Linked DNA regions of Homo sapiens: all the other regions are reported to be linked to region 2. The links are microRNA targets in miRTarBase. Many come from high-throughput screens and were not tested one by one. Region 2 holds a microRNA gene; each other region holds the end of a gene's coding sequence.

Region 1 (5,423 bases), not on the chromosome of region 2:
CCATGTTGGCCAGGCTGGTCTGGAACTACTGACCTCAGGTGACCCACCTACCTTGGCCTCACAAAGTGCTGGGATTACAGGCATGAGTCACCGTGTCCGGCCCAGGGAGTCATATTTTTCACTGAAGGTTTTCTGTGGTCAGAACTGGGATACATACTGACCCATCAGCTATAACAAGTAAACAGGAACCAGATTGCCAAGAAGAAGGTTGGCAAACTATGGCCCATAGGTCAAATCTGGCCTGCCACATGTTTTTGTAAATAAAATCTTATTGTAACACTGCCACTATTATTCATTTTTGTATTGTCTATAGGTGGTGTCATGCTACTGTGGCAGACTTGTGTGACCATGGCCCACAGAAAACCTAAACTGCTTACTGTCTGGCCCTTTACAGGGTACGTCTGTGGACCTCTGGCTTAGACCAATTATGTTCACCCTCTGGGTTGGTGATGTGGCTGCCCAAACAAAACTGGGTTTAGTTAGCAAGAATGGGAAGCAAAATAGCTACAGGGTAGGTGACAATATCCTTCCACAAAATATCAGTTGTAATTTTTCCAATAGACTAAAATAAATACCTATTAATAATAAGAGCTTAAGGCTGCACGCGGTGGCTCACGTCTGTAATCCCAGCACTTTGGGAGGCCGAGGCAGGAGGATTGCTTGAGCTCAGGAGTTCAAGACCAGCCTGGGTGACATGGCAAAATCTTGTCTCTACAACAAAATAATAATAAACAAAGAATAAAAGCTGAAGTTTGTCTTCAACTCTGGCCGTATGCCCCTGGGCTACCCAGGGTGCACTGTGGTCCATGATTTATTGAAAATTCACCTTTCTTCCTGACAGGTCTGTGTGTCATGATTGCGGCCTCCATTTATACAGACAGGCGTGAAGACATTCACGACAAAAACGCGAAATTCTATCCCGTGACCAGAGAAGGCAGCTACGGCTACTCCTACATCCTGGCGTGGGTGGCCTTCGCCTGCACCTTCATCAGCGGCATGATGTACCTGATACTGAGGAAGCGCAAATAGAGTTCCGGAGCTGGGTTGCTTCTGCTGCAGTACAGAATCCACATTCAGATAACCATTTTGTATATAATCATTATTTTTTGAGGTTTTTCTAGCAAACGTATTGTTTCCTTTAAAAGCCAAAAAAAAAAAAAAAAAAAAAAAAAAAAGAAAAAAGAAAAAAAAAATCCAAAAGAGAGAAGAGTTTTTGCATTCTTGAGATCAGAGAATAGACTATGAAGGCTGGTATTCAGAACTGCTGCCCACTCAAAAGTCTCAACAAGACACAAGCAAAAATCCAGCAATGCTCAAATCCAAAAGCACTCGGCAGGACATTTCTTAACCATGGGGCTGTGATGGGAGGAGAGGAGAGGCTGGGAAAGCCGGGTCTCTGGGGACGTGCTTCCTATGGGTTTCAGCTGGCCCAAGCCCCTCCCGAATCTCTCTGCTAGTGGTGGGTGGAAGAGGGTGAGGTGGGGTATAGGAGAAGAATGACAGCTTCCTGAGAGGTTTCACCCAAGTTCCAAGTGAGAAGCAGGTGTAGTCCCTGGCATTCTGTCTGTATCCAAACCAGAGCCCAGCCATCCCTCCGGTATCGGGGTGGGTCAGAAAAAGTCTCACCTCAATTTGCCGACAGTGTCACCTGCTTGCCTTAGGAATGGTCATCCTTAACCTGCGTGCCAGATTTAGACTCGTCTTTAGGCAAAACCTACAGCGCCCCCCCCCTCACCCCAGACCTACAGAATCAGAGTCTTCAAGGGATGGGGCCAGGGAATCTGCATTTCTAACGCGCTCCCTGGGCAACGCTTCAGATGCGTTGAAGTTGGGGACCACGGTGCCTGGGCCAGGTCAGCAGAGCTGCCTCGTAAATGCTGGGGTATCGTCATGTGGAGATGGGGAGGTGAATGCAACCCCCACAGCAGGCCAAAACCTTGGCCTCCATCGCCACAGCTGTCTACATCTAGGGCCCCAAAACTCCATTCCTGAGCCATGTGAACTCATAGACACCTTCAGGGTGTGGGGTACAGCCTCCTTCCCATCTTATCCCAGAAGGCCTCTCCCTTCTTGTCCAGCCCTTCATGCTACACCTGGCTGGCCTCTCACCCCTATTTCTAGAGCCTCAGAGGACCCATCCACCATTCATTCATTCATTCATTCATTCATTCATTCATTCATTCATCAACATAAATCATAACTTGCATGCATGTGCCAGGCACAGGGGATACCCTCTAGAGACAATCTCCTCCTAGGGCTCATGGCCTAGTGGAGGAGACAGATTAAAACTTAATTAGAAAAACTGGCTGGGTACAGTGGCTCATGCTTGTAATCCCAGCACTTTGGGAGGCTGAGGCGGGTGGATCACCTGAGGTCAGGAGTTCAAGACCAGCCTGGCCAAAATGGTAAAACCTGTCTCTACTAAAAATACAAAAATGAGCTGGGCGTGGTGGTGCATGCCTGTAATCCCAGCTATCAGGTGGCTGAGGCAGGAGAATCACTTGAAATGGGAGGTGGAGGTTGCAGTGAGCCGAGACCGTGCCACTGCACTCCAGCCTGGGTGACAGAGTGAGACTCCATCTCAAAAAAAGAAAAAAAAGAAAAGAAACTAATTACACACTGTGATGGAGGCTGCAAAGAACACCACTAAGAATTCAAAATCAGCTGGGTGCGGTGGCTCACACCTGTAATCCCAGCACTTTGGGAGGCTGAGGCAGGTGGATCACAAGGTCAGGAGTTCAAGACCAGCCTGGCCAACATGGTGAAACCCCGTCTCTACCGAAAATACAACAAAATTAGCCCGGTGTGGTGGCAGGTGCCTGTAATCCCAGCTACTTAGGAGGCTGAGGCAGGAGAATCGCTTGAAACTGGGAGGCGGAGGTCGCAGTGAGCCGAGATTCACCACTGCACTCCAGCCCAGGCGACAGTCTGAGACTCCGTCTCAAAAATAAAACGATTCAAAATCGAGGCCTGTGGCATGGTAGGGAGGCTGCTTTACGCGTGCCTATTATTAAATGCTCCTGGAGGCATTTAGGTATTTAGATCAGTCTAAATATAGCTCCATTCAGTTCGTGCAGATGACAGTTATTGGGCAGTACCTGTCTGTGTAACACCCAGAAAACATGTCTGTGGAGGGGCCCATGGTCCCGACAGTAAATGCGGTGAGAGGGTCCCATAGAGCTGGAGTTTTCAAGCTTTAGGGGTTCCCGTGCTGCTTGGGACAGGCTGATTCAGAGGGTCTGGGTGAATGATTTCCAGGTGATTTTAAGACTGTGCTGAGAAATAGGGCTTTTGGGGCCTTGTCCTTCAGGATCAAAGCATGATGCTGTGTGGCAATGCAGACCACCCAGGAACCATCCCAGGAGATAAGCTCTTTGCACCTCATTGTCTTTTTCTGCTTATGTTGGAGCAGGATGCTGGGGGCTGTCCTGGGATGGGGTGTGGGACCTCGTGCTATTTAAATACTTTTGCACTTGACCTTCTGCTGAGTGGAGTGGTGGTTTGCCATCAGCTCAGTTCCAGTGGAGCTGAAGAGACATCTGGTTTGAGTAGTTTTAGGGCCACCATGGATATCTCTTCAATGCAGGATTGGCTCTTTCCATCTGCTCTTTCATTCATTTGTTTTTGACAGATAGTATTAAATGTTTACCATGTTCCAGGCACTGTGTGAGGCTCTGAAAATACAGGGGTGAGCAAATCCAGATATCCTCCCTGCCATCATGAAGTTTGGAGTCTATGAGATAGGACCCCCTCCCTATGGAGAAGCCACCAATGCAGTACAGGGTGACCTGGGGCCAGAGACAGGACAAATGTCACCTCCTGCCTCCATGAGATACTCTCACTAGTCATATTGTGGGCAAGAATGTGGCTTACACCCCTAGGGTTAACAGGATGCTACCCAAGCTCATGGAGGAAGTTGAATCTTAAGTTCCCTTGAAACTTTCTACCTTGGTGGCTTTTCTATAATTTTCTTTTTTCTTTTTCTTTTTTTTTTTTTTTTTTGAGACTGAGTTTTGCTCTTGTTGCCCAGGCTGGAGTGCAGTGGCACCATCTTGGCTCACCGCAACCTCTGCCTCCTGGGTTCAAGTGATTCTCCTGCCTCAGCCTCCCGAGTAGCTGGGATTACAGGCATGTCCCACCATGCCCAGCTAATTTTTGTATTTTTAGTAGAGATGGGGTTTCTCCATGTTGGTCAGGCTGGTTTCGAACTCCCAACCTCAGGTGATCCGCCCACCTCAGCCTTCCAAAGTGCTGGGATTACAGGCATGAGCCACTGCGTCTGGCCTTCTATAATTTTCTGGTAGTCACGATGGAAACAAACAAAACACCTTAGAACCAGAGATCGACCCCCTCAAGCAATACATCAATTCCCTTCACAAGAAACGTCGGGGCTACATGAGTATCTGTGTTGAATGCGGTCTGAAATGATCCTATGGATTTTCCCGGCTGGTTGCCACTGCTGTACAACATTCAGTGCCCACATCCACCTGTGCCATTAAGCTTTTTTGAGACATGAGAGATGCCTCTTCCCTGCTGTATGACATGCATTTGGGAAGTTGGAAAGAAATGACAAAATCAGGGAGAAAACATCCAAGCTTCTTACCTGTAGATAGAATCAGCCCTCACTTGGTGCTTATTACCAGTTATTCAAGAACAATAACAACAACAAAATTAGTAGACATCCAAGAAGCACATATTAGGACCAAAGATAGCATCAACTGTATTTGAAGGAACTGTAGTTTGCGCATTTTATGACATTTTTATAAAGTACTGTAATTCTTTCATTGAGGGGCTATGTGATGGAGACAGACTAACTCATTTTGTTATTTGCATTAAAATTATTTTGGGTCTCTGTTCAAATGAGTTTGGAGAATGCTTGACTTGTTGGTCTGTGTGAATGTGTATATATATATACCTGAATACAGGAACATCGGAGACCTATTCACTCCCACACACTCTGCTATAGTTTGCGTGCTTTTGTGGACACCCCTCATGAACAGGCTGGCGCTCTAGGACGCTCTGTGTTCACTGATGATGAAGAAACCTAGAACTCCAAGCCTGTTTGTAAACACACTAAACACAGTGGCCTAGATAGAAACTGTATCGTAGTTTAAAATCTGCCTCGCGGGATGTTACTAAACTCGCTAATAGTTTAAAGGTTACTTACAATAGAGCAAGTTGGACAATTTTGTGGTGTTGGGGAAATGTTAGGGCAAGGCCTAGAGGTTCATTTTGAATCTTGGTTTGTGACTTTAGGGTAGTTAGAAACTTTCTACTTAATGTACCTTTAAAATAGTCCATTTTCTATGTTTTGTATAATCTGAAACTGTACATGGAAAATAAAGTTTAAAACCAGATTGCCCAGAGCAAGACTCTAATGTTCCCAACGGTGATGACATCTAGGGCAGAATGCTGCCATTTTG
Region 2 (5,391 bases):
GTTCTGTTTTGAGGTACTGGGTCTGGTGGGCTGGGGAGGGCCAAAGGACAGGGGTGATGGAAGGTGGGGGGCAGAGAGGTCTAGAGAAAGTGGCACAGGTGGGGACATCAAGGAAACAGAAACTTCTGGGACTGGAGGAAAGGGTAGGCCAGGGAGGAAGAGAAGGTAGCAGAGTCTCCTCCCCTCTGTAGCCCTTTCCCTCAACTCCACACTCCTTTCTAGGTAACAACTTCATCAGGAACAAAATGCTTTGCCTGTCGGTCTGCGGCCGAAAGAGACAAATGGATTGAGAATCTGCAGCGGGCAGTAAAGCCCAACAAGGTATTGGGGAATAAAGGGGACACAACCTGTGCAGGGCAAAGGTTGCACCAACACGGGAAGCTGGGGGCCTAGGGAGGAAAGTGAGTTAAAGGAGGAGAGGCTTGGGGAAGGAGAGGATTGAGGTACAGTGTATCTGGACAAGCAGGGGGAGACCCCCATTATTCTGAGTCCCCCATTTCTTTTCGCTTTCTGTACTGCTACCCTGCCTTACGATCTCTTTCCCTGCCATAGAAGTCATAGACTTACAGAGTTGATGGGGCTCTGGAAATTCTTTAGTCTAGCTTCCCTGCAGGCAGGAATGCTTCACTAATACCCCGCAGGACACATCAAATACACTTAGCCAAGTTTCTGTACCTTGGTTTCCTCTCTAAGACAGAGGGAACTGGTGGCAATGGGTTGGATTAAATGATCTCTAAGGTCCCTTTGGCACATAAATTCTATGAGTCTGTTCTTCCCAAAACTTCATGCTTCCAGTTCTGTCAGCTATTCTCTGTATCCCAGTTTCTAGCAAGCTTACAGTCCTAGTCACACTCCTCTGGGGGGAACTCTTGTGTCTTGATGTCCTTAAAGAACTCAACCCAAGATGCTGACATGATCTGACCTATGCAGAGTACAAACACCATGTTCCCTTTCAACACACTGCAATATCACCTGAGCCTTACCATTAGCTTGTGCTCAATTGTATCCCCCCAGGCCCTTACTGATTCTTTTTTTTTTTTTTTTGAGACAGAGTCTCACTCTGTCACCCAGGCTGGAGTGCAGTGGCGTGATCTTGGCTCACTGCAACCTCCGCCTCCTGGGTTTAAGCAATTCCTGTGCCTCAGCCTCCCCAGTAGCTGGGATTACAGGCATGCACCACCACACCCGACTAATTTTTGTATTTTTAGTAGAGACGAGGTTTCACCATGTTGGCCAGGCTAGTCTCAAACTCCTGACCTCAGGTTGTCTGCCTGCCTCAGCCTCCCAAAGTGCTAGGATTACAGGCATGAGCCACCACATCTGGCCAAGCTTTACCCATTCTATATGCAATTCTTTTTTCACAATTTCTGATAGTCTCTGCAGGACTTTCCAGTTCCCTTCAAATTCTACATTAATATTTTTGGCTTGTTATTCCAGCTTTTGAAATCTTTCCAATACTGTTTGTGTTGTCTAGTGTATGTCTACGCTTCTACAGTAGCTTCCTGGGGCTGCTATAACAAACTGCTACAAACTGGGTCACGTAAAACAACAGAAATTTATTCTCTCACAGTTCAGGAGGCTGGAAGTCCAAAAGCAAGGTATCAGCAGGGCCACGCTCTCTTTGATGCTGTAGCAGGGAATCCTTCCTTGCCTCTTCCTAGCTTCCGGAGGTTGCCAGCAGTCCTTGGCATTCCTGGGCTTATAACTGCATCCGTCTAATTTCTGCCTCCATCTTCATGTAGCTGGCTTCCTTCTGTGTGTCTCTGTATCCTGTATCTCTGTGTCTCCAAATCTCCCTCTCCATATAAAGACACCAGTTTTTATAAGGTGGGTTAAGGGTCCACTCTAATTCAGTATGGCCTCTTTTTTTTGAGATGGAATATCGCTCTTGTTTCCCAGGCTTGGAGTGCAATGGCATGAGCTCAGCTCACTGCAACCTCCGCCTTCCAGGTTCAAGTGATTCTCCTGCCTCAGCCTCCTGAGTAGCTGGGATTACAGGCACGTGCCACTATGCCCAGCTAATTTGTTTTTGTATTTTTATTAGAGACGGGGTTTCACTATGTTGGCCAGGCTGGCTCGAACTCCTGACCTCAGGCAATCCACCCACCTCGGCCTCCCAAAGTGCTGGGATTACAGGAATGAGATACCATGGCTGGCCTCTTCTTAGTTTGATTACATTTGCAGGGATCCTGTTTCCAAATAAGATCACATTCACAGGTTCAGGGTAGACATGAGTTTTGGTGGGATACTATTCAACCCAGTACACCGTCTCACCTTATGATTGCTGTCTGTATCCCACTTTCTTACTGTCTCTCCTCTTTTGGTGTCTCTCTGTCCCTTCCCCCTTTAACATCATGCCCACCCCACCATGCCAGGACAACAGCCGCCGGGTAGACAATGTGCTAAAGCTGTGGATCATAGAGGCCCGGGAGCTGCCCCCCAAGAAGCGGTACTACTGTGAGCTCTGCCTGGATGACATGCTGTATGCACGCACCACCTCCAAGCCCCGCTCTGCCTCTGGGGACACCGTCTTCTGGGGCGAGCACTTCGAGTTTAACAACCTGCCGGCTGTCCGTGCCCTGCGGCTGCATCTGTACCGTGACTCAGACAAAAAGCGCAAGAAGGACAAGGCAGGCTATGTCGGCCTGGTGACTGTGCCAGTGGCCACCCTGGCTGGGCGCCACTTCACAGAGCAGTGGTACCCTGTAACCCTGCCAACAGGCAGTGGGGGATCTGGGGGCATGGGTTCGGGAGGGGGAGGGGGCTCGGGGGGTGGCTCAGGGGGCAAGGGCAAAGGAGGTTGCCCGGCTGTGCGGCTGAAAGCACGTTACCAGACAATGAGCATCTTGCCCATGGAGCTATATAAAGAGTTTGCAGAGTATGTCACCAACCATTATCGGATGCTGTGTGCAGTCTTGGAGCCCGCCCTGAATGTCAAAGGCAAGGAGGAGGTTGCCAGTGCACTAGTTCACATCCTGCAGAGTACAGGCAAGGCCAAGGTGAGTGTTGTGCCCTCAGGGAAAGGTGACTTGGGAATGGGCACTTGCTTGGGGGTTAGTGAGGACAGGGCAAATTCACGAGATTGGGTTGTGCAGAGGCTGACACTTGGATTTTCCTGGGCCTCAGGACTTCCTTTCAGACATGGCCATGTCTGAGGTAGACCGGTTCATGGAACGGGAGCACCTCATATTCCGCGAGAACACGCTTGCCACTAAAGCCATAGAAGAGTATATGAGACTGATTGGTCAGAAATACCTCAAGGATGCCATTGGTATGGCCCACACTCAGGCCCTCTTCTTCCCAAACCTGCCAGATGTCCACCCCAGACCCCAAGTCCACCCTTCCACAGCTTGATACTTCCTAACCCAGAGTCCTAGGACTCCAGCCTCCAACACCTGATTCTGAAATTTCCCCAACCCTGGCCACCCCCTTCCCTGCCCTTGGAAAGTGTGACCACACCCTCTTGTGCCCCCACCCCCCAGGAGAATTCATCCGTGCTCTGTATGAATCTGAGGAAAACTGCGAGGTAGACCCTATCAAGTGCACAGCATCCAGTTTGGCAGAGCACCAGGCCAACCTGCGAATGTGCTGTGAGTTGGCCCTGTGCAAGGTGGTCAACTCCCACTGGTGAGACTGGGAACGCTGGGCTGGGGGGCCAGGGTCGGGGGAATTATGTGTTCATCTGTTCATCTATCTGTCCATCCTCAAAGAGGACTGAGCACCATTTATGGGCAAAGCATTGTTCTAGGCGCTATAGAGCAAACAGGTGAAAGAGGCCTGGTCCCTGCCCTCAGAGGGCCTCCACCAGAATGGGGACAAATTAGAAGAAAAAAAAAAAAAGCCACAGAGCCATAATGGTGTGTAAGTGCTGAGTAAGGGTCCCCCCAACCTCTGTGTGACATAAGGTCAGAGAGAAGGCAGAGCTTTGAGATAAGTGGGGAAGAGGTGCCCCCTTGGGTAGGCTTTGAAGACTGGTTTAGGTTCTGATATATGGACATAGTTGGCAAGAAAGACATTTCAGAAGAAGGCTGTGAGAAAGGCACATGTGTGATGGTGAAAAGGCCCAGGAGTTTTCAGGGGACATTAAAGTAGGTTAGTAGCAATTACATCAGGTTTAGTGGAGCATGTGCCTCATAATGGGGAGTGGCGGGAGAGATGTCTGGGCAGGAAGATTAGCTTTAGAAACTGGAAGGCCTCAAGGAGTCTGAGGTCATTGGTAGGCCTTGGGATGCCATTAAAGGTGTCAGAAATATTGTGATTTAGAAGATTAATCCATAGGCTGGGCACGGTGGCTCACACCTGTAATACCAGCACTTTGGGAGGCTGAGGCGGGCAGACCACCTGAGGTCAGGAGTTTGAGACCAGGCTGACCAACATGGAGAAACCCTGTCTCTACTAAAAATACAAAATTAGCCAGATGTGGTGGCACATGCCTGTAATCCCAGCTATTCGGGAGGCTAAGGCAGGAGAATCACTTGAATCTGGGAGGTGGAGGTTGTAGTGAGCCGAGATCACACGATTGCACTCTAGCCTGGGCAACAAGAGTGAAACTCCATCTCAAAAAAAAAAAATTAATCCATAAGTAGAGTGTATGTAGTAGAGTAGAGGGATGTATGTTGGGGGATGACTGGAATAGAGCCAGCTGGGGGCTCGGAGGCATGAAAGTCAGATCCTGAATCAGAACAGTGACAGAAGTTAGGAAGGAGCTACTGGAAGGACCCTCTCGGGAAAGGATCAGTAGGAATTGTCAGCTTATTGGAAAGGAGGGAGCATGTCTGTGGGGAGTCACGGATGACTCAAGAGGCCATGAGGCTGGTGGTTGGGAGACCGGTGGCCTCATTGACAACCAGGAAAGTCAGGAGGAGGAGCCAGTTGGAGGTGTGGGGGCGATGGTGAGCTCTGCTTTACACCAGCCGAGTTTAAGGTGTCAGTGGGACATTGAAGTGGAACTGGGAGGTGCGGGGAGTGAGCTCTGAGCCATTCCAGGGACTGGGGATCATGCCTGGGGCACCTCCATCCCCATTTCCCTGGAATCCAGAAGAGTTGGGGGGTCCGAGCTCCCTGTACCTCAAGTGACCCTCCATCTCTCTCCCATCTCTGTCTCTCCCTGGTGTCTGTTTTTCTTCTCCTCCTCTCCTTGTCTCTCTCCCACACCCCTCCATCTCTCTCCCACGTGTCTCTCCCCTCACCTTCTCTCCCCCTCCATTTCTCTCTCCCTAATCTGTCTGTTCCCTCTGCCATGGCCCCCTTCTTCAAGCAGCCTCCCATCTTGCTCCTGCGGTCCCTCCTTCCCTGTCTCTCTCACCCCTGTTTCCACACCCTCACCTCCTACCACCCCCCTCAGCATGTTCCCTGGAAGCTGAGGGTCTCTGGGGCTCAGTCCCGGTCTCT
Region 3 (5,000 bases), not on the chromosome of region 2:
TAGGAGACTGCTCCATCATTCTCAGCACATAGGGTGCACATCTCACTATCTCTGGCATGAACCAGCCTTGCGAACTTATACAGTCTCAGCCACTCTGCTTTGATGGTAATTCTTCACCACTGATCTCTCCTCACCATGCCCTTCCTGCATCCTTCCCCCAACCACCCACCAGAGGAGTTCTGGTCCCCAAACCAAAGAGTTGCCTGCAGGTTGGTAATGTGACTTTGTAGATATTCCTTGATTAAAGCCAGACCCTATTGGTATCCTTTTTGAAGTACTGGATCGAAATCTAATTGCTTTTTTTTTTAATTGTTGGGGAGAGGAGGATGAGCAGAACTCCTATGCAGCCTGAGAGAAGTTCTCTATGTGTCTGTATATGTACACCTCTGTGTGTGTGTGTGTAACCTCATGGTTGTGCTCAGGCTGACAGGGAGGGCAAAGAGTGAAAAGGAAGCATCTCTTTCTTGTTATCCAACATTGCTTCAAAGATGCCCAACCCCCGTAGTAGCAGGCAGTTCCCAAGTGGAGGGTCGGGGCAGAGGCCTCCACCAAGGCCATCAATAACCAGGTGTGAGCTACAGGTCTCTGTGTAATGTGAAGCTCTCCCGTATTTCATTTCTGCACCCAGGGGGCGGCTCTGCAGGATTGCTTACGGAGAACTCTGTGTCTGGCACCTCTCTCCACAAGGCCCAGGCGCCCAGGGTCCCACCGACCTGCCCAGGAATGCATCACATTGTTCTCTGGTGCTGTAATTTGGCTGCAGGAGCTAGGCTGAATGCCTCCCAGGGATGAGAAACATACTCTCCCTGGCGTCCTCCCTTCGCCCCAGCTAGCTTGAGCTTCTGCCCTATGACCACTGAGTGCATTTAAATAAAAACCTCAGAAAGACTGAGGAAAAAAAAATCCTAATTATCTCTCTTCTGTTAAGCCATGTAGAGACTCGTGTCCTGAGTGGGTCTGAGAATTTGGCAAAGACTTACTGGTTGGTGTTCTTGATAAGGGAAGTGAGACAAAGGAGAAGAAATTACTCCCTGCAACAGGAGGAATAGAAATGAAGCAGTGAGTGTTCAGAAATTAGATCTACAAGAAGTTTTGCAAACAGACCCTCAGGGCCAGGCAATGTTTGTTTTTGTTTTTTGTTTTTTGTTTTTTTTTTTAATCTGAAGCCCCTGATTTTATTTTTCCAGCATCACTCTAAGGAAGAGTGTGGATTAGTGCCATTATTCAGGGCTGGTATTAATAAAAGTTAGCTTTTATCTGCAGGGCTAGGTTAAGGCTGGCATTCTTACTTTTACATTAAAAAAACTGGCTACAGGCTGCGCAGCTGAGGTACTTCAGTCATGTGCCTTCTCTAAAGGATTCTTAGATCCTTAAAATATATAGTATGTTTTAAGTTTGTATCTAAATAGCACTTACTGTAATGTATTATACCTAAATGTTTATTAAAAGTTAGAAGAAATGAGTACCAACAGGAAGGAATGGAAGAGAGGAGAGGGGCTAAGACATTGCTGATCTGAGGGACAGACCTCTATCAAATAGAAGAGGGCTGGGAGAAGGGGTGATTAGAAGCAGAGTGAGGGAACTAAATGGAGCCCTGACTGCACCAAATAAAGTTCTCATTTTGCTGCTTGTTCCAAATAAATTAGTGTCTATTTGTGTAATGCAGACTAAATGCCAGTTGTGTAAAGCCAATCAATGCAGAAGCAAGCTAAGAACTAGGAGGAAAAATTAATTGCTTGGCCATCATTCCTTTTGGGACCACATAACCTCCGTGGTGGGGCTCAAATGGACATCATTTCTCTCTTATGCACCTCTCTTTTCAAACTTCTCACTCTCTGGACAGCTTGCTCTTTTCTTAACCATTTATAGGAAATTGCAAAACTTGCATCTTTATGAGCTAGAATTTGGAGCCCAAGGAAAAGCACAGAGTAGCATGAGATGCCAGAAGAGGCCCATTTCCTTCCACAGGGATGAGAACCAAAAACCAAAGAATAGAGAGTAGGGTATAGGTAGATTTAAGTCAGGTTGACGTCCTATGGAAGGCATATGCCATTATTTATGTGGTAACCTGCATGTTCTTGTGAGAACAGGGGCTGGCCAGGACCTGAGGCTTTCCCCAGCAGCCTGGCATATAATATAAGGCAGCTTCCTTTGGTAAATTCATTCAGCCCTATTGTTGAGTTCAGACTGACCATGACCCCCTTACCTCTCCACTACCCCAAAGCTTTCCTCAAGATGTCAGCTGTTCTCTTCCCCTCCCATTTCCCCCTCCTTAATCCCACCATTGGCTCATCAGTTATCCAGTTGACTCCATTCTGAAGGAAGACATTCTCTTGGCCTGACTCACTCAGGCCCATTTCTCCACAGGCATCCCCTTACCGCAGACCACAAGGGCCCTGACTAGCTCATGTTTTGTGTTAATGGATGTGAAACCAGAGCAAATCCCCTCACCAAAAGAAAAACCACCCTAAACTCTCCCACACAGGTCTCAGCAGGTTACACAAATATTAGTCCTATCATCCAAATAAATCTGCCCCCGTGGCCCAGAGCTATGGCTCCCCCAACCTCCTGCTGCCTGTGCAGAGTGAAGCTGCTTCAAAAACATGAGGACCCCAAGGGATATTGGAGAGGAACTTTGGAAAGACAGGGGCCTGTATCCAGAATTCTTTATGCAGGCTCCTTAATCTACAGACTTTTGTTAATACTTTATAGTCCTAAAGAAGGACTGTTCCTAGAGAAGTCATGATGGGCTAGACCAGCCAGGGGCTTTGGTGAAGAGGATCTGCGGGCTGGAGTTTGGTGCATAATTAAAACTCAGCGTCTGACAGCTGGGCACAGTGGCTTGCGCTTGTACGCCCAGCACTTTGGAAGGCTGCAGTGGGAGGATTGCTTGAGACCAAGAATTCAAGACCAGCCTGGGCAACATAGTGAGCTCCATCTCTGAAAACTATGTTTAAATTAGCTGGGCATGATGGCATGGCCCTGTAGTCCCAGCTAATGGGGAGGCTGAGGTGGGAGGATTGCTTGAGCCTGGGAATTTGAGGCTGCAGTGAGCCATGATCATGCCAGTGCACTCCAGCCTGGGCAACAAAGCGAGACCCTATCTCTAAAAGAAATAAAAAGAAAGAAAAAAAAGAACAGGTACGTATCCTCATTTTACAGATGAGAAAATAGAAGCTCAGAAAATTTAGCTACCTTGCTCAAAATATCAAAGCAAATGGCACAGCTGTGATTTTTAACCCGGGTCTGTCATAACCGCAAATTTCTATACCACTCTGCTGCTTTAAGATATCAACAGGCAAAAGATAACCACTGTCCAACTCACATAAAAATAGGACATCAAGTTTTGGGGGACTTCATGTCCTACCTCCAGCTTACTAAGCCTGCTATCTCTGGAGATTCCACTACTGCAAACCTAGTTAGGCAATGGGTAATAGCATTACCCATTAAGCCAAATGTGGAGTGAACAATAATAATAATCACTAGGACTTGGAGAGTCACTAAATAAAGATTTGTTGAGTAAGTGGAGGAAGGCTGCCTTCTAAGCTGTGTATCACTTTGGCCCCAACCTGCAGTACTCCTTCCCACTGTAGCCACTGACTCCTGCTCCCAGCTTCAAAGGCTAGGATCCTCTCATAAAGAATTACCAAAGCCAGAGATCCCTACCTGCCTAATATATACTGATGCCTCATGTGGGCCCTTGAGATCAGACCTGCTTACCTGCTCTCCCACCATCCATGAGTTGCCTATCTTTCTTTTACTCCATGTCTCCCCAAACCTGGCAAACCTCCAGAATAGTGCATGGGAAGAGAAGAAAAGAAAAGAAAAAAAAAAAAAAAAAAAAGGCAACACAAGGCCTAGCCAGACTTACTACATTAATCTATCCTAGGAGTGTTCTAGGGTGTTTTAATGATTTGTTAAGCATGGGAACCACTGCATTCCACCTCAGTTTGAACAGGCAGCAAGTAAGCAAAAGAGGCAGTGCTGTCCAATACAGGTTGAGAATGGTAGAGAGAAAAAGAGAGAATGAATGTGTGTTTGTATTGTTATGATTCTTTTTCTTCTACAAAACACAGTTTATAAACATATGAGCATGTGAATGGAACCTTGTCCACTATGGCTAACATCTCAGGCTCTCAATAATAGAATGTGGTAGCCTAAGATTTTCTTTCGGGGTACCAGGTAGTTCTGCTCAAACGGACTTCAGAGAAGGGACATGCCATTCATCTTTGTCCCATCTAACTTTGGCCAGGTAGAAACAAAAAGAAGCTCTCTACAGGTACCCTTCCTCTTGCACACCAAGAAGTATCGGGAAGCTGGTGCAAAGGAAAGAAAAAAGGAGCCTCAACTACGTACTTTAGTGCAACTCATTTCACTCTAAAGACCCCCTATCTCTTCTACTCTCCCTTCAAATCTCCAGAGCGGGAAATCAGGGAGCTTGCTCAGTTTCTTATATCCCCTGACAACTCCTTCCCAGGGCTAAGGAACCAGCCAGGACACCATGGTCCCTATGGATTACTCTCTACATCCTTAAATAGAAGCGGTAGCAGCCCAGGGTGGAGGGTGGAGGAAGGTGTGCATGCAAGGATCTTGTGCTTTTGAGTTGAGAGGCTTGAATTGGAGGGATGAGTGAGGTATCTGTGTGTTCAGGTTTGGTCCAGCCACTCTGCCTTCTTGGGGGCTTTGCAAGTATGGACGTCCACAGTATTTCTGCATTCCTTGCACCGTACAGCACAGCACCAGTGGAATTTGCACTCACACTGGGTAACACGGGTGACTCGAGTTGTGTCGTACCCTCGGCCACAGCACATGATTTCACAACCGTCTGTTCCTTTTGATGTCTTGCTGCAGACACGGCCTGCAGTGCCTAGGGAACCTGGGTTGGGGAAGAGAGGGAGTGAGAACAAAGTTATCTCTTCAGCTGCCCTGGATACCCTTAACCACATTCTCAGAAGGAAGATAAAAAGAATCGCTTTTTTGGGCTGGGCACAGTGGCTCAC
Region 4 (5,423 bases), not on the chromosome of region 2:
ATTTTCAGTAGAGATGGAGTTTCACAATGTTGGCCAGGCTGGTCTTAAACTCCTGACCTCAGGTGATCTGCCTGCCTCAGCCTCCCAAAGTGCTGGGATTATAGGCGTGAGCCACCGCACCCGGCCAAATATGAGTTTCTTATAATCAGACCTGAAAATTTATACTTTAAGCACTTGAGCATTTGTGTTGTATTTGATTTGTAATTCAGTTATGAGTACATTGGCCAACATAATTTTTTTATTCAGAAGCTGACACTTGTAAGGTATTTATGTTTTTGCATATAATAGGTTTCAGAGAGAGGTTGCTAAACTGTGAGAGCTGTCTTAAGGACAGAAAAGACCACTGACATATGAATACCTCTCCCAGTATTTTGGAAAACTGGTTTTGAGGATTTGTTTTAACATAGTGAAACTCTAATAAGGAATTTTGTTTTTCTGTACTTATTTTAATCATGATTTTACAAATAAATTCTTAGTAATGTTTGTTATAAAATTATTTTTGCTGATTTTAAAAATATGCACCTAGGAATTTTTGTAATATATAATGAGAAAATAAATAATGGCAAACAAGTGTATCTGGAATCTCACCCTACCAGAGTCATACTTACTCTTGCTCTCATTTATTCATTCAGTAAACGTCTACTGAGCCCCCTGTGTTAGACAAGAAAGATATTGTCTCTACCCCTTCTCCTGTATAGATGTCATTTTACTAGAAAGAGTATTAACTCATTTTGGTGATTTTCTCTCAAAAATGTTCTAGCATGTTAATTATTCATAAACTATTGAAGCTCCTTATATCAAGTTCCTTTTAAAAGATACTTAAGTAGAAAGATTGGGCTTGCCTAAATAACAAGGAAAGATAAGAAATACTCCTTTGAAAAACAACTTTTAAACTCAGTTTTTAATGCTTATATTTTTTAGGTTCCTACAAACTTGATGACTTTTGAGTAGAAGCCTGAGAAAAAAAGAGAGGTGAACTGTTGCTTCTACGTGAGCATGAGGACCTGATAAAAGAGCGCCAGCTATAAACCATCCTGTGCCAGGAAGAGCCCAGAGGCTCTGTCTCAGTCGTTGGAGTTCTCAACCAAAAAAGCACTAATTTCAGGGAATGATTTGAGATATTCCCAGAGAACAAATTGGAGTTGCAAAACAAACTGCCATGAACCATGCTTCTTATCTCAGAACTGACCTGTGGAAACCACTGCCTTAAAAGAATGAAAGGAAAACCAACATGAAACACCAAATAGTGTGTGTGAATCTTCTGGCGGTGCTGTGCTTGGAATAGATCGTAGCTAATTTGCATTTCTTTTAACTTTGTAATAATTTTAGAGGGGGGAATTGCCTTTTTTAGATATGCTTTAAAAAGGAAAAACATACTCTTGTGGATTCCATCAGGAGCTGGTTTTGAACCGAGGTGAAGAGACTTAGCAGGGATTGTACCAGCAGCCCACCTGCAAGGTTTGTTCTCCCTCTAGTAGTCTGCAACCTCACTGGCTTTCTCACAGCAAGAGTGTAGGAATGAGAAATGTTAGTCATGTGAGTTCTTGGGTTTGTTTGGGATTGGGTGGGGGTGTTTGTTTTGTTTTGGATGAGGGGAGAATTTTTTTAAACACTAAACTTCTGAAATGTAGTACTGTAAGGGGAACATTATTTCCTGCAGGAGGTACAAAGGCTGTGTGTTCATTTGCCAGACGCTTTTTTTTTAAATAGGTTCCAGAAAACATGGTTGTTTCTAACTAGGGTTAAAGTTTAGCTTTCTATATGAATTCATTGTTGGACCACAGATCTGCTTAAGTAAAGAGCTATAATCCCAACCTAAACTTTTCTGAGATTTTACAATAATTAGATCTTTTTCCAAGTTAATTGGGTTTTCCCTTCTCCCAGTCATAGGTGGTTTTTATCATCAAGACAGACTGATATTTTGTCAGGATATTTTCTTTTACAGTGTTTGATGTGCATAATGCCAGAGTTATTTTTTTATTATTCATTTTCTCTCTTTTTGTTCAATATGAGATTCAGGATCATATTTGTTTAAAAGGTAACACATAGAGATGTATGTATATATTTTGTTATAAGACATACAAAATAATTTTAAGAGGGATAAAGGTGAAAATATCAGATTCTGGAAATTTTAAGTATCTAAACTTTATACTTGTATGATTTACCATAAACATACCAAAACATTTTTCTGAAAATTTACTGTCGGTCTCTGACATGAAACCGTATTTTGTCAGTAGTTGACCAAGCAGTTTTATGAGAACTCTTCTATGCAATGATGCATTTAATTTCTAAAGTAAATGTTGAATTATTAAAAAAAAAGTTTGAAGGTAAGATGCCTTAGAATTTTAATGAAAAATGACACTCAAACAAAGGCTATATGTCGAATGTTATAAACTCTTGAGACATAATGAATTTTAGCAGTGGCCTAGAGTAAGGTAATGCTTTGTGACTGATATCTACTAATAGACTTCTGTTACTTTGGGCCTCACATAAAATTTCTCACATTCGTATTCTTAGAGAATTTTATACTTTTTTATTATAAGTATTTTGCCCTTGAGTCCATGAAACTTCAATAGAAAATATTGCTTATACAATAATTAGCTTAAAATCCATCCAAAGGAAAAGAGAAGAGCTTTTTTTGAGTGTTAAGTTTTTTAATTTAGTATTCTGTTTGGAAAAGATGTTAAGAGTTCAAATATGCTTCTTATGTAACAGAAATACCATTATTTCTGGGGTTTAGTGACACAGGCTGGAGAGGACAAAAGTTTCCTGTCCTGAATGATTTTTCAATTAATGCTCTAAGCTTAACCCATGTTGGGTAATAGAAAGACATAGCCAGCAGTATTACTACGTAGACCTTGCACATCTTACTTTTGTTTTGCATTTTTAAAAATTTCTTAATTTGTTTATTTCTCTTCAGAAATAGCGTTTTTAACAGTGTATGTGCTTTTTTAAAAAGTATTGTGAATGAGAACCCTGTGGATTTTTTTTATTTCATTTGTTTGTCATAATAAGCTAACGTAGAAATGTTGTAGGTTAACCATATCTGTGGAAATATGCAGTTGGAAGTCAGAGCCTGACATCACATAGTTTTGCCAAAGGGAGAGAGCTAAGCTGGAAGATGTTTTTGATACTTTCGGCTCTAAACATTAATGGATGTTTGCGTAGAGTAAGATAGCGTTCAAATTTGGTTAATAGTTTATAGATAGACTTGTGGCCTCTGACTGACTAAATTTCTTAACAGCACAGAAGTCGTTGTTTTTCTGTCTTTAAAATTTATTCATTCAGAAAATTAGTCATTGCTTTTTAAGATTATTTTAGCATTTGAAGCAAATTGAAAACAGAAAAGTGACTTAAAATAGTGTAGGTGAATTTTTTATCTATAATTTACCAAATAATACCTGATAATAATTCAAAGAAAATATGTTACCAAAATATATTAAATATATAGGTAGTTCATTCGTGGGAAGATGAATCTTCTTATTAAGCCTGCCCTCAATTGTAAATAAGTGACTCAAAAACTCAAAATGTTCATCAGCATTCAGGTCATTTGTTTCACCCTTAGCCAAGAAGAACTCATTAGAAATTCAGTTATAATTTCAATTTAAGCCTGTTTATGATAAGCATAATGATTGGCATGTTATATAGCCTGTTGAAAATAACTACAGAATGACCTTCCAGAGCACTGTTTTTGGCCTCGTGCCCGCTCTGTTCAGGCTCTGCTTGTTTTTCAGAATATGATTTTTACCTCCAGACAGTAAGAATTGAACAAGAACTGATCAAACACACCTTCCTATTTTGTTTTCTTCACTATGTAAATATTATTTGGGCAAACATTACAAAAAGGGATCCAAACAATTTGAGTTTCAGTATTTTTTTCTCCCTAGGCATGTGCTTCAATTTCAAATATTTTTTTCTGTGTGGAAAATGCCATGTAACTATTGCACTACCTTCTGTGTGGACTGTGTTGGTATTGGTTCTTTCTGTATATCAAAAGTCAGGGTGTTTATAACTGCAAAGTTTGTATAAGTGGCTTTATTCCTCTTCTAGAAGATTTATGAGGAGCCTAGGAAGCACTATTGGTACAGGAGGAAAAAAGAATGGAAAACATGTTTACAGACTCTAGCTTTCCTTATTAGCTTAAACTGGGGCCCTCAAAGAGCAGCCTGTTGATCTTTTGGCCAAATGACTTGAGCATAAGTCTTTTATTTCTTTTTAAGGTTAAATCGTAAACTGTATACCTTTACTACTGAAAACAAAACTATAGGGCATCATACTAATTGAAAATCAATAGTAATGGGTTCCATCCATTAGCTTTTTAAATGAATAGATCTGGTATTGATTTCCTTCCTGTTTTTTTGAGGCACATTCCTTTACAACCAGTGTTTAAACCACCACGTAATCATCTTCTGCAAACAAGGGGTGCCAGTGTTGCCTAACAGAAGATAATCTTTAATAAAGCAAATCCTCTGCTTCAAAGGTTTTTGAAATAATTGGATCCCTTTTTGAAAAGGAAGATGAGTTTAACTGTGTCCAGGTGGAGTAATAGTACTGCTGTTGCATGAATAGATGATACAAAGCAAGTGATGAGGTTGGTATGACTTCTTTAGTGACCTTTTAGGGTTTGCTTTTATTTTCCTCTCTTTTTTGTATTATTTCTTTCAAACATAGTAAATATATGATTTTACAGCCAAAGTGGTATTCTGTTTTTTCTAAGCTTTGAGATACAAATATTGCTATTTAATCACATTGATGATGAATTACTTTCCATGTGAACCTTCTCAAAATGATTTAAGTACCTTTGATTTTGCTCCCCTAAAAATGGCTTGTGTCTAAAGTGACATTTTTTTCCCTATTTGGAGGGTTCTAATGAAAGAGATCCAGGCATAAAAACTCTTTTGCTTATTGAAAGCAATTTGATTACACCTATGTTTCAGGTTATAGTGGGGAGAAAATTTGGTCAGTGCCTTATTATTTGAAGAGCAATTTTAGGGCATCAAGTATGACAATAATCATGTGCCCTCTTGCTCCTCTTATTTCAGGAGTGTGTGCTATCCCTCTCTCCACCAGCTTAATCTTTCTCACCCCAAGTCTAACAAAGTCTTTACAGAAACCTCTGTAGGTGATTGTTGCAGTCTTCCTTGGTTTTTGAGTCTTTTTAAACAAGCTCCTACCCTGCTTCTATCCTTTTAGAGTAGGAGATTAAAAATAAACCCACCCCAGTCAACCTTTAGATAAGCACTCTTAAAAACAAATTTGAAGAGCACTCTTCAGCCAAGTTCATTTTTATTTTGTTGTTGATGTTTTGAGCATACATTTAATTGTAAGGCCTTTTGGAAAAGCCCTAAAAGAATAAGATACAACCAGAAATATTTGAGTTTTGTTAAATGTACTGAAATCTTGTAATGAAAATCCCTTTGGCC

What was found. The annotated mature microRNA hsa-miR-5004-3p reads CUUGGAUUUUCCUGGGCCUCAG and lies in region 2 at 3,105-3,126, shown strand. An mRNA with a match to its seed (bases 2 to 7 or 8) in the 3' UTR can be bound and repressed. Matches are read on the target gene's strand: a 7mer-m8 pairs with bases 2 to 8, a 7mer-A1 pairs with bases 2 to 7 and ends in A, and an 8mer does both.
Region 1: the mRNA of EMP2 is a reported target of hsa-miR-5004-3p. Seed matches in the 3' UTR shown: 8mer at 1,192-1,199, 8mer at 1,317-1,324 and 7mer-A1 at 1,569-1,575.
Region 3: miRTarBase lists WNT2B as a target of hsa-miR-5004-3p. The part of its 3' UTR that is shown has no 7-base or 8-base seed match.
Region 4: the mRNA of RALGPS2 is a reported target of hsa-miR-5004-3p. Seed matches in the 3' UTR shown: 7mer-A1 at 2,612-2,618 and 7mer-A1 at 3,849-3,855.

What each region holds. Positions count from the first base shown.
Region 1 is chr16:10,528,511-10,533,933 of GRCh38, reverse strand. It overlaps EMP2 (epithelial membrane protein 2), which reads left to right. Exons shown (of 5, transcript NM_001424.6): 5 at 842-5,423. The coding sequence ends at 1,029. Among named protein-coding and RNA genes, the nearest start is that of LINC01290, 3.0 kb to the right of the region's middle. RefSeq lists a silencer at 1-262 and an enhancer at 1-262.
Region 2 is chr6:33,435,293-33,440,683 of GRCh38, forward strand. It overlaps MIR5004 (microRNA 5004), which reads left to right and starts at 3,039; the gene lies at 3,039-3,145. It overlaps SYNGAP1 (synaptic Ras GTPase activating protein 1), which reads left to right. Exons shown (of 19, transcript NM_006772.3): 6 at 1-13; 7 at 223-321; 8 at 2,376-2,999; 9 at 3,127-3,271; 10 at 3,483-3,627. SYNGAP1-AS1 (SYNGAP1 antisense RNA 1) reads right to left here. Exons shown (of 3, transcript NR_174954.1): 3 at 2,071-2,189. RefSeq lists a silencer at 2,561-2,738.
Region 3 is chr1:112,520,156-112,525,155 of GRCh38, reverse strand. It overlaps WNT2B (Wnt family member 2B), which reads right to left. Exons shown (of 5, transcript NM_024494.3): 5 at 1-4,876. The coding sequence ends at 4,647. It overlaps ST7L (suppression of tumorigenicity 7 like), which reads left to right. Exons shown (of 15, transcript NM_017744.5): 15 at 1-1,642. Among named protein-coding and RNA genes, the nearest start is that of WNT2B, 14 kb to the right of the region's middle.
Region 4 is chr1:178,915,409-178,920,831 of GRCh38, forward strand. It overlaps RALGPS2 (Ral GEF with PH domain and SH3 binding motif 2), which reads left to right. Exons shown (of 20, transcript NM_152663.5): 20 at 922-5,423. The coding sequence ends at 951. Among named protein-coding and RNA genes, the nearest start is that of ANGPTL1, 47 kb to the left of the region's middle.